Regions from separate parts of the Homo sapiens genome. Here region 1 is linked to region 2. Evidence: fine-mapped expression QTL. A gene starts in region 2. The other region holds a variant in brackets. All regions are shown on one strand. Distances are between the middles of the regions. Region 1 overlaps FGF14-IT1 (FGF14 intronic transcript 1). Region 2 holds the start of FGF14-IT1 (FGF14 intronic transcript 1).

The links. PIP is the estimated chance that this variant, and not a neighbour inherited with it, causes the effect. A credible set is the group of variants that fine-mapping cannot tell apart.
Region 1: its variant is the best candidate, but not a certain one, in a credible set for the expression of FGF14-IT1 in testis (GTEx, PIP 0.72).

What each region holds. Positions count from the first base shown.
Region 1 is chr13:102,291,287-102,295,682 of GRCh38, forward strand. It overlaps FGF14-IT1 (FGF14 intronic transcript 1), which reads right to left. Exons shown (of 4, transcript NR_036486.1): 4 at 1,034-2,754. All of the region lies in intron 1 of LOC107984615 (a long non-coding RNA gene), which reads left to right. It also overlaps a transcript of FGF14 not described here. Among named protein-coding and RNA genes, the nearest start is that of FGF14-AS1, 74 kb to the right of the region's middle. The variant T/C (reference allele first, on the strand shown) is at 2,009.
Region 2 is chr13:102,392,724-102,397,119 of GRCh38, forward strand. FGF14-IT1 (FGF14 intronic transcript 1) reads right to left here and starts at 1,796. Exons shown (of 4, transcript NR_036486.1): 1 at 1,631-1,796; 2 at 1,035-1,108. It overlaps FGF14-AS2 (FGF14 antisense RNA 2), which reads left to right and starts at 1,855. Exons shown (of 1, transcript NR_036487.1): 1 at 1,855-2,982. It also overlaps a transcript of FGF14 not described here. RefSeq lists an enhancer at 1,702-1,931.

The sequences.
Region 1 (4,396 bases), 100 kb before region 2:
TGAAACTGTCTTTACAAATATTACTCTGGTAATTTTATATATGGGGTTTGGTCCTACCTTCAGATTAGAGAAACTGTATTTTGAGTTCTGAGTAGAAGGCAGAGAGGAACTCGCTAACATGTTCATAGGATTTGGGAGGAAAAAAAGTCTAGAAGTTTTCACAGTGGTGCTAGGAGAAGCTTAAAGGAGTGTATTCCTTCCCCGTGTCAAGAATGTGTTCTCTATTCACCAGAGTAAATAAATAACTGCATAGGTGTAAATTAAAATAGATAGATCAATAAATAACATTTTTTAGAACCAGAAAAATCAGCATCCATCAAGCTGAGAGTCCCCACACAATACCATACTGTGGGGTGTGCTATACTGAAGAAACCAAGGAAAGAATGTTAAAGACTTGATTGGAATAAAATCAGACCCTAAGAATAAGGCTGGGAAAAAAATACAGAGCTCAGAGCCCAGCAGCTACGTACACCTGAAAGGATTCAACAGGTCCCAGGAAGGTGTCTGCACCTCTGCCCTGACTCCTCCAATGCTCTGGTTTTTACCACCTCAAAAGGGAGGTGGTATCACTTATTGTAGGACCCCAGGCCGACCCTCCTGCTTGTCCACATGGTGCCTGTGGTGCCTACTTGGACTTAAAGTATAAAACTTGGAAGCATTTAAAGGGTAAGAGAAATGCTTGAGAGTCGCTGCAGTGAGTCAGCACATTAATGCTGACTCCACAGTTATCTGGATTAGAGCCGGCCTTGTCTGTGACCTGGACTCTCACTTTGCCCAATCCCAAGCGCTTGCAGAATGGCTGGCTGGCCGGAGCCCCCGCCAATTTGTTTTTCTGGCTTGCATTTCATTATTTAACATAAACCAGGAGTCAGTACTAAACCAGCCTTCTAGTTCTCATATCTTTCATCATCCCAGAAATTGACAAAAACTGACAGAGTTGAGAGGATGTCTCATTTTACCTGCCAAATATTTCCTACCTTATACTCTATAGCAAAAAAAAAAAAAAAAAAAAAAAAAAACTGACAATTTCAAAGCATTTTCAAAGCAGAAGATTTTAATGTATTGTTATTCTTGAGGATAAATCTTTCAGGATATTACCTTCCAGAATTTCTGATGTAACAGGAAAGAGTAAGATCAGTATCTGAAGCAGTTTCCACAGATAAGACTAGATCATTATATTTTTTAAAGATATGTACATGGACATCAGCTTGTTCTGGGCTCTCGCATATATCTACTACAGTGTCAGACACCTACCAAGTGCTTAATAAGTATGAATTCTTAGCTTTTCCTTCAGGGTTTTGGGTAAGCCTTTGCAATTCCCAAGTCGAAAGTCAGCAAAACGTTATATATCAAACAAAAGAAACCACCTCACCTACAACAATGGGCCTGAGACTCAGCAGGATGAGAAATATCTTTTTATGAATACAGTTTTTAAAATATGGAGCCACCCCACATAATAAACAGCAGGACAGGTCAAGTATTAGACACAATGAATGACAATGGGTGGCTTGGGCGTGTCTTCTGAACACAGTGGGCCATAGCCATGGTCCTCATTTCTTTCTAATTGGCACATGTGACATCTGGACCTCTCTATTAGCCTGAAGTCACAGCACTTTGTGCAGGAACCACAGATTTAAAGAGACCTTGGTATGTATTCATAAGGCTGAAATGAAGATCACATCTGCGCAACTCCACCAGCCCTTTCCTCAAAGTCTCTCCAGGATCGATGATTAAGGAAAGCAAGATGATTGACAGGTAGTACTACAAGGATTAGCAAATTGCAGCTCCCTTCTCACCACCCCACTGTCTGTCCATCTCTGGTATCCATTCCTGCCTCTCACCTCCCAACTACCAGGCTCCGTGTTTCTTCCCCTAGACAAGATGATGAAAGCAAGAGATCAGGTATTCAAAATTGCCATGAAGGCTCTCTCTTCCTTGCCATGCCATCCCTGGCATCTTGTCAGTTGGCTTCCAAGTTTCAGCATTCACTCTGTAAAATGAATTAATT[T/C]ATGTGAAATTTGCTGATAGATGCAGGATCAGCACTCTCAAAAAATGACAAATCTTCCTGATGGAATTTGTCTTTTAATTGTCTTCCCTTGGAGAATACATATTTTCACTCTCCCTATTGCTACCATAGGTACTGCATTTGTCCTGATCAGCACAGTAACATAAAGAGGCCGTAGAGAAGGCATATGGCCGGCTGCACTTTTCATTTCCTGGTTCTCTGTTGACAGTATTGCTTATTTCCAGATGGATAAATAGTTTGCACCTTAATGTAATCAAAGACTGAAAAAAAGATGCCACTTGAAAAACATTTGAGAAAAGAGAAAAGAAGGGGAAAATAGGCCTCTGAGGTGGTATCTATAATGTGGTACTGAATTTCACTCTATCTTCACAAACAATAAACCTCATGTTTTATAACATTTTACTGAAGCATTATTTTCTAATAAATCCCCTTTTGTTTTGATTCTTGTTGCTGTATAATAAGCAAAGAAGAAAAGAACAATGGCTGGAAATTCTGTCTGTGTGATTTGAAGTGCTCTCACTTGCATGCTGAGAAGTGTTATAACGAATATTTTTGGCATCAGCTGATGATAGCAGCTTGGTACTAGCAGCACTTGATTCAGAATGTCATATGATACAATAATACACAAATTGAGTGCACAGAGGGGGAAAAATCATGCAACCTGTCATAGGTACAGCGATATTCCATGAGTATTCAGGGCTGGAGATGTAGAAGTAGAAACCTGAAATCTGAAATATGAAAAAAATGAACAAACACTTAACATCCACAAATACCAAGCAAAAATTAACAAATGAAACATAGCAGTTGTTATGCAATCATAATACAAGAGGCTTCTCTAGTCAAAATCTTATGGCATAAATCTATGAATGATCTGCTACAACTAAAGTACTCAAGTCAATGGGAAAACATATTTATTCAAATAAAATGTCTTTTCTATGACTTTTTAACAACTAATTTTCTTAAAATAACAGGCCTTTTCTCCATTGCTTAATCTTCATCTTCCACTGACTTTTTAACAACTAATTTTCTTAAAATAACAGGCCTTTTCTCCATTGCTTAATCTTCATCTTCCACTGCTTTTTTCTAGAAGACTGTTTGGTCCAAAAAAAAAAAACAAACACATCCTGAATGATTAGGAAAACTACTAGGACTGCTTTATTTAAAAATTTATTTAATATCAGCAGGGAATTTATTTCATGTTATCTCTAAAAATAAACACATTCTAAATATTAACTCCAGGGGCATTCTTTTAACCCCGTGGCATCCACTTGGCTTGAACTCTGTCACTTGTGTTTGAATATTTGAGTGGTTGCTGGGAACTAGATTGTCAATTTCTGTTTGCCCTCCCCTCCTTTCTTATTTCCACTATTTCTCCAGTGGTCAAAATAGCTGTTTCCTTCTGATAATATTAGTGAAATTTTTCTAGTTTCACTTTTCCCTAGTCTATATAGTTAGACTGCCATTGTCCAAGTTCTGGCTCCCTCAGAACCATCTGTGTGACCTCTATCAAAAGACGGCTCTCTCAGTGCCTCAGTTTCCTGATCTACCTCCTGAGGTTACCGTGAGGACTAAATGAGTTACAATAGCACTTAGAACAATGTCTGGCACAGAGTAAGCTCTGTGTTAATGTTCTCAACTTGAAAATTGAAGTGATTTCATTGTGAATGCTATTATTCAAAATATTTTAAAATACCTACTTTGATTTGTTTTTCTCCCATCAGTTTGTGGATTACTTTACTTTAAGTAGTTGGTATGATTATTTTAAGTTGGCCACCCATAGGAGTTTAAAACCAGAAAGAACCATAAAAATCATGTTGTCCAACTTCTACAGGAGGTTCTTCATCATTATGATTATCACCAGGCATTTGTTCCTCAGTTAGTTATACTTCTTATCGATTCTGGTGCCACTGGAGCGCATTTTTATCTAAGCTCGGGGCATGGAGATGTTCTCAACCGTATCTACAAATTCACTTTCGTCTCTGTCCCTCTCATCAACATCTTCTGAACAGTAAAGATCATCACTCCACCATGCACTGTGATATCTAATGGTTCGTGGTGTAGGCAAAGAGGATTCCTAGTTACTCTAGACTTTTCCTTGCCCCTTAGCAGCCTTAAGTTTTTTTCTTGTCCTTTGACTTGTACGGTACTGTGTGGTTTGTGATACCTTTGCACTGTGTGGTTTGTGATACCTTTGCACAATTATTACACAATGGATCCTAAAACCAACTTTCTAAAGGTCGGCGAAGCAGGCATAATTATTCCCTCATTCTCCCTCAGGGCACTGAAAATCAAAGGCTAGGATCTTGCCTGAGATTACAGAATTAGAAGTACCAGAGAGAAACATAAAGTCCAAGTCTTAGGATTTTCTCT
Region 2 (4,396 bases):
TTCCTTCCCAAATTCAAACTGGCCACTAAGATGGATGGACTTCACTTCCTCTCTAGTGCCTGTCACTGCCTTATTCTGGACCGCTCACCACTGCTCACTGCTCTTCCTCCCTGGTCTTTCCACCTTCAACCTTGCCCAACCCAGAGCTGTTTTCCACGCTGTAGTCATAATGGTTGTCTAAAGGGTAGATATGATCATGACACAGAAGAGAGCTCACGATCTGTGCCTCACTACCTTGCAACCCCACTCACTACCTGCCACTCCCTAGAAACACCCTCTATTTCTCAGTTGTACTTGATATTCTCGGTCTGCACCACAATCTTTGACGCCCCCAAAGCTTAAAGTATGCTTCTTTCTCTTCCTTGACAGCCTAACCAGTGCCTTTACCACGTGGCTAACTCTTAGTCATTCTTCATGACTCAGTCTGAGTTTTATTCCCTCCAGAAACCTTTCCATGCCCCTCTTCCTTGGCCCTATAGCACCTTGGTCCACCTACACAGAATTGTTCACCACATCATAATTGATCCTGTCTTTTGTCTTTCCTGCTAATTCCTTGAAGGAAGAACTCTTCTTCACCCCTGTATCTCCAGCATCAACAGTTCAAACACAGCAGCACTTTTTAAGTGTTTACTAAGTTTTGTTTTTTGTTTTTTTGAGATTGTAGTTACTGAAAAAGTGATAAAAAGCACGTGGACCTAAAAGAAATAATTCATAAATTTCAGAGTTGTAATAAACTCTGAAAATAATCTTTTTCAACTTCTTAATTTACAAATGAGGTTTATAAAAAAGATTTAAGAAAGATTTTTCCCAATAGCATGGATATGAGAGAAGGAAAAATAAACTAGTGAAGATACCCTCCCCTACCCCGAAAATCTTAAAACTGTCTAAGGAAAAGGTATCTGGGGAATATAATGGATAAATGGAATGCCATCTATTTCAGCACCAACCACACAATTCTATGAAGCGCATGAGGAGCTCTTCCTAGTGTCACCAGTAAAATACGCGTTTCTTCACCCAAGGCTCAAAGCTTCTACCTGTGTTTGTGCCTACAATTCCAAAACTGGCTCTTGGAACAGTCGCTTCCTCCACTGGGAAGGAGTTGCCACACCTGTAAAAGGAACAGGTTGTTTGTGATCGCTAAGGTCAACCTCTTATCTCTGATGGTCTCTGAATTTAGAGTACAATTTAAATATATAGTTAACATAGTCCGGGAGAGATACAGGGAAGGGGTGAGGGAAGTTTACTTACAATCAGGACTGGGTGTGAACGTTATGGGAACCTAGAATATTAGAGCTGGGGCTGATCTGGGATTACTCTAATCAATATCCTTCTTGTAGTAGCCGAGGGGACTGAAGCCCAGAAAACTTCAGGACCCGCCCAGGGTCTCCCAGTAGCTAGTGTGTAAGCTGAGACCAGAACTTGGCTCGTTCTCTCCCAGTCCTGAGCTTGGGCAGAATCACCAGCAACGCCAGCTCCCTTCCCTTTCCTTCAGATGGGTCTCGGGTCCAGAGCTGGCGCCCGCTAGCGGGAGGCCAGACCGGGAGGGCCAAGGCAGCCACCTGTGGCTTTCCCATCCCTCAGGTCCAGCAGTGCACATGGGGTGCCCCCGCGTCAACGCCGGAGGAGTGACCTTGCAAACCCGCGCCCCGCGGGCGGCAGAGCCGGCCGCTCACTGCCCGGTCCCCGGCCACCACGGAAGAGCGAAGATCTCTGCCAGGGCAGGAGCCCTAGCCCCGACCCGCGCCCCAAGTCTCTCCCGCGCGGCGGCTTCCGGCCGCCATGGTTTCCATAGCAACAACAGCACAAGCTGCCGGGTCCCAGAGACGCCCTAGGGTCAGAGGTCATCTCCGTGGCAACGGAAACTTCCCGCGCTACGGCGGCTCCAACGGGCCGCTTCCGCCGCATTGCGTAGCGAAGCCCCCGGCGAGCCGAGGCTGGGAGCGCGGTGATGGCCGGTCCCCGTGAGCAGAGGGCAGCGGCGGCGGGACCGGGGACTCTGGGCCAATGGGTAAAGCCAGGAGGAAGCCCGTGCCTGGCCCGTTGGGCTCCCTCCTCCTCAGAGCCGAAGCAGTCCACACTCGGAACCCAGCTTCACCCGGATTACCGAGGGGTTCCACGCCTGGAGGCAGAGCTGCAGCGTGGGCCCGCTCGCGGCTTTGCAGAAAACAAATAATGACACACTTCTCTGGAAGCCCGGGGCCTGGGCCCAGAGCCGTGGCTTCTGCCAAACTTTCTGGTCCCGGACACCAACTCCCCGCCTCTCAGCCCGAGGCCACAGCGGCCCAGCACCCTGCACCTTTTAAAGTGGCTCCAAAAAGGAGAAAGCCAAATAGATCAGGGTGGTAGGCGCGAGTGCAGGGAGCTGCGAAGTTGGAAGATTACTGCTTTTCAAACTGCCAAAGAGCAAAATACTAAGCGAGAAACTCCGTCCAAAGCAACTGGAACTCGAGGTTCTTTACTAATGAGAGTTCCAGTTACCATCTTCAGAGAAAGGAGCTCAAAAGAGGGAGTTTATTTTTTGCGGAATGTCTTCCTTGTTAAGAAGAAAATTAAAGATTAAAAAAGAAAATGAAGGGTCTGGCAACTATGAACCTAATGGTGCCCTAACGTTTGCTATTCTAAGGCCGAGAATGCCAGATGGGGAGAACGCCATGAGCTTTTGAGCTTGTGTATTTTGCGAGAGGCTCGAGTGTGAACAGTAGACTACAGGCCTTGAGACTGAGAAGGAAGCTATAAAATGTGGGCCAAGGGAATGTCTGCAGGACCGGGTTTCAGAGCACCCTATCGTGGCGGATAAAGAGCCACTAACAGCTTTTTTCTTTATTTAGTAGCCAAATTCTTGGTTGGCGCTTTGAGAAAGGAGTAAGCATTAAGCGAATTTAACCAAGTAAAATGTATCGTCCTGCCCTTTGTAGTCCCATAGTTCACTATCCTAGAGATACCTATTTTTCACTATTTTATTAAAGTGTATTGAAAACCTACCATGTGTCGTGAACAGAGTTTTTGTCAAGAGACAGTGACAAAGGCAGTGGTGCCCAGCAGTTGTTGGGTGACTTTCTTACATGATGTTACCAGACTAATCAAACAAGAACTTCACTGTTCCCTATAAAACATGTCTGCGACATTCATCCTTTTTGCCTTCAAGTTTAGGAAGTCCCTAAGAATCCCTCCTTTTGTTCCCTTCTCTTCATCATCCTACCTTTTACATTCTGACCAAAGTAAAAAAAATAGTGGCAGCTAGAGAACTACACAGGGAAAACATCAGGACATAGTTGGTCTTGATACAAAAGAGCTATTGCATCTCTAGAGGTATACGGGGAGCTGAGAAGTCTCCCTCAGAAAACTCCATGCCCTTCAGTACCCGGGTTCAACACATAACTAAACCTTGTACCTGGTACACAAGTCCTAAGGAACACCACACAGACTATGGCAGTGAGCAGGCAGATGTGTAAATAGGTGTTTCCCTGTCCCTATTTACAGGAGGTAAATAGTATTACCTCCACAGTCCCTCCTGGAGGTAATACTGAGTTGGGCTCAAAGGTTTTATTAAAAATAGGCACAGTGCAATGACTTGTTTAACACTGAAGAGAAGAGCTCCTGTTAGACTGTTCAAACAGCCCAACTGTTTCCCCTTAAGGCAAAAGACACTATTTTGAATAAATGCTTCCATTTTGAGACATCTACGTGGTATTTATAGAAGGCGTATGAGTCAATTTGAGTGAGGTATGATGCCAAAATGTGCAAAGGAGTGAAAACATTGGTTGTTGTCCTTGTTACCATATGTATAAAAACACTTCACAAAAGTCTCCAATGTTTGTGTTGCTAAAACATGGAAGACTGGGTTCGAACATTTTAAAGGAATGGTTCATTGTAGGAAACGTGAAGTATAGTATAGAATTAGCTTTAGCACTTTCAGAAAGTACTGCATCATTTGAACAAATTTTCTCAGTTATGGATGCTGTCTAAGATGAGAACAAGTTGTACAGCCAAAGTCATCTTCATTGTTAAAACTAAGTTTAGATTATCATGCATTGAATTTTACACTTATTAACTGGGATATACATTTCAAAAAAGAAAAATCTACTCTCCCAACAAGGCAGTACTCCGAAGCCTACCTAAAATGCCATCCTTTGGTTCATGGAGTGGCACTGCTCTACAAAACCCATTTTGTTACCTCAGTAAATAAGCTTCCTGGATGGAGTCTAAGGCCAACTAATACTACATTGAATCCCACTCTACAGCCAAGCATGTTAGAAGAAGCAGCTTACATCTGTTTGCTGTTCCAGACGTGCAGTCTGAATTTGATGTTTTCATTTGAAATATACTCAGTGTTTAGACTTGCAGAGGTTGTGGCCCATTTGTGGCTCACCCAGCTCTACTGGAACCTAGGATGAGT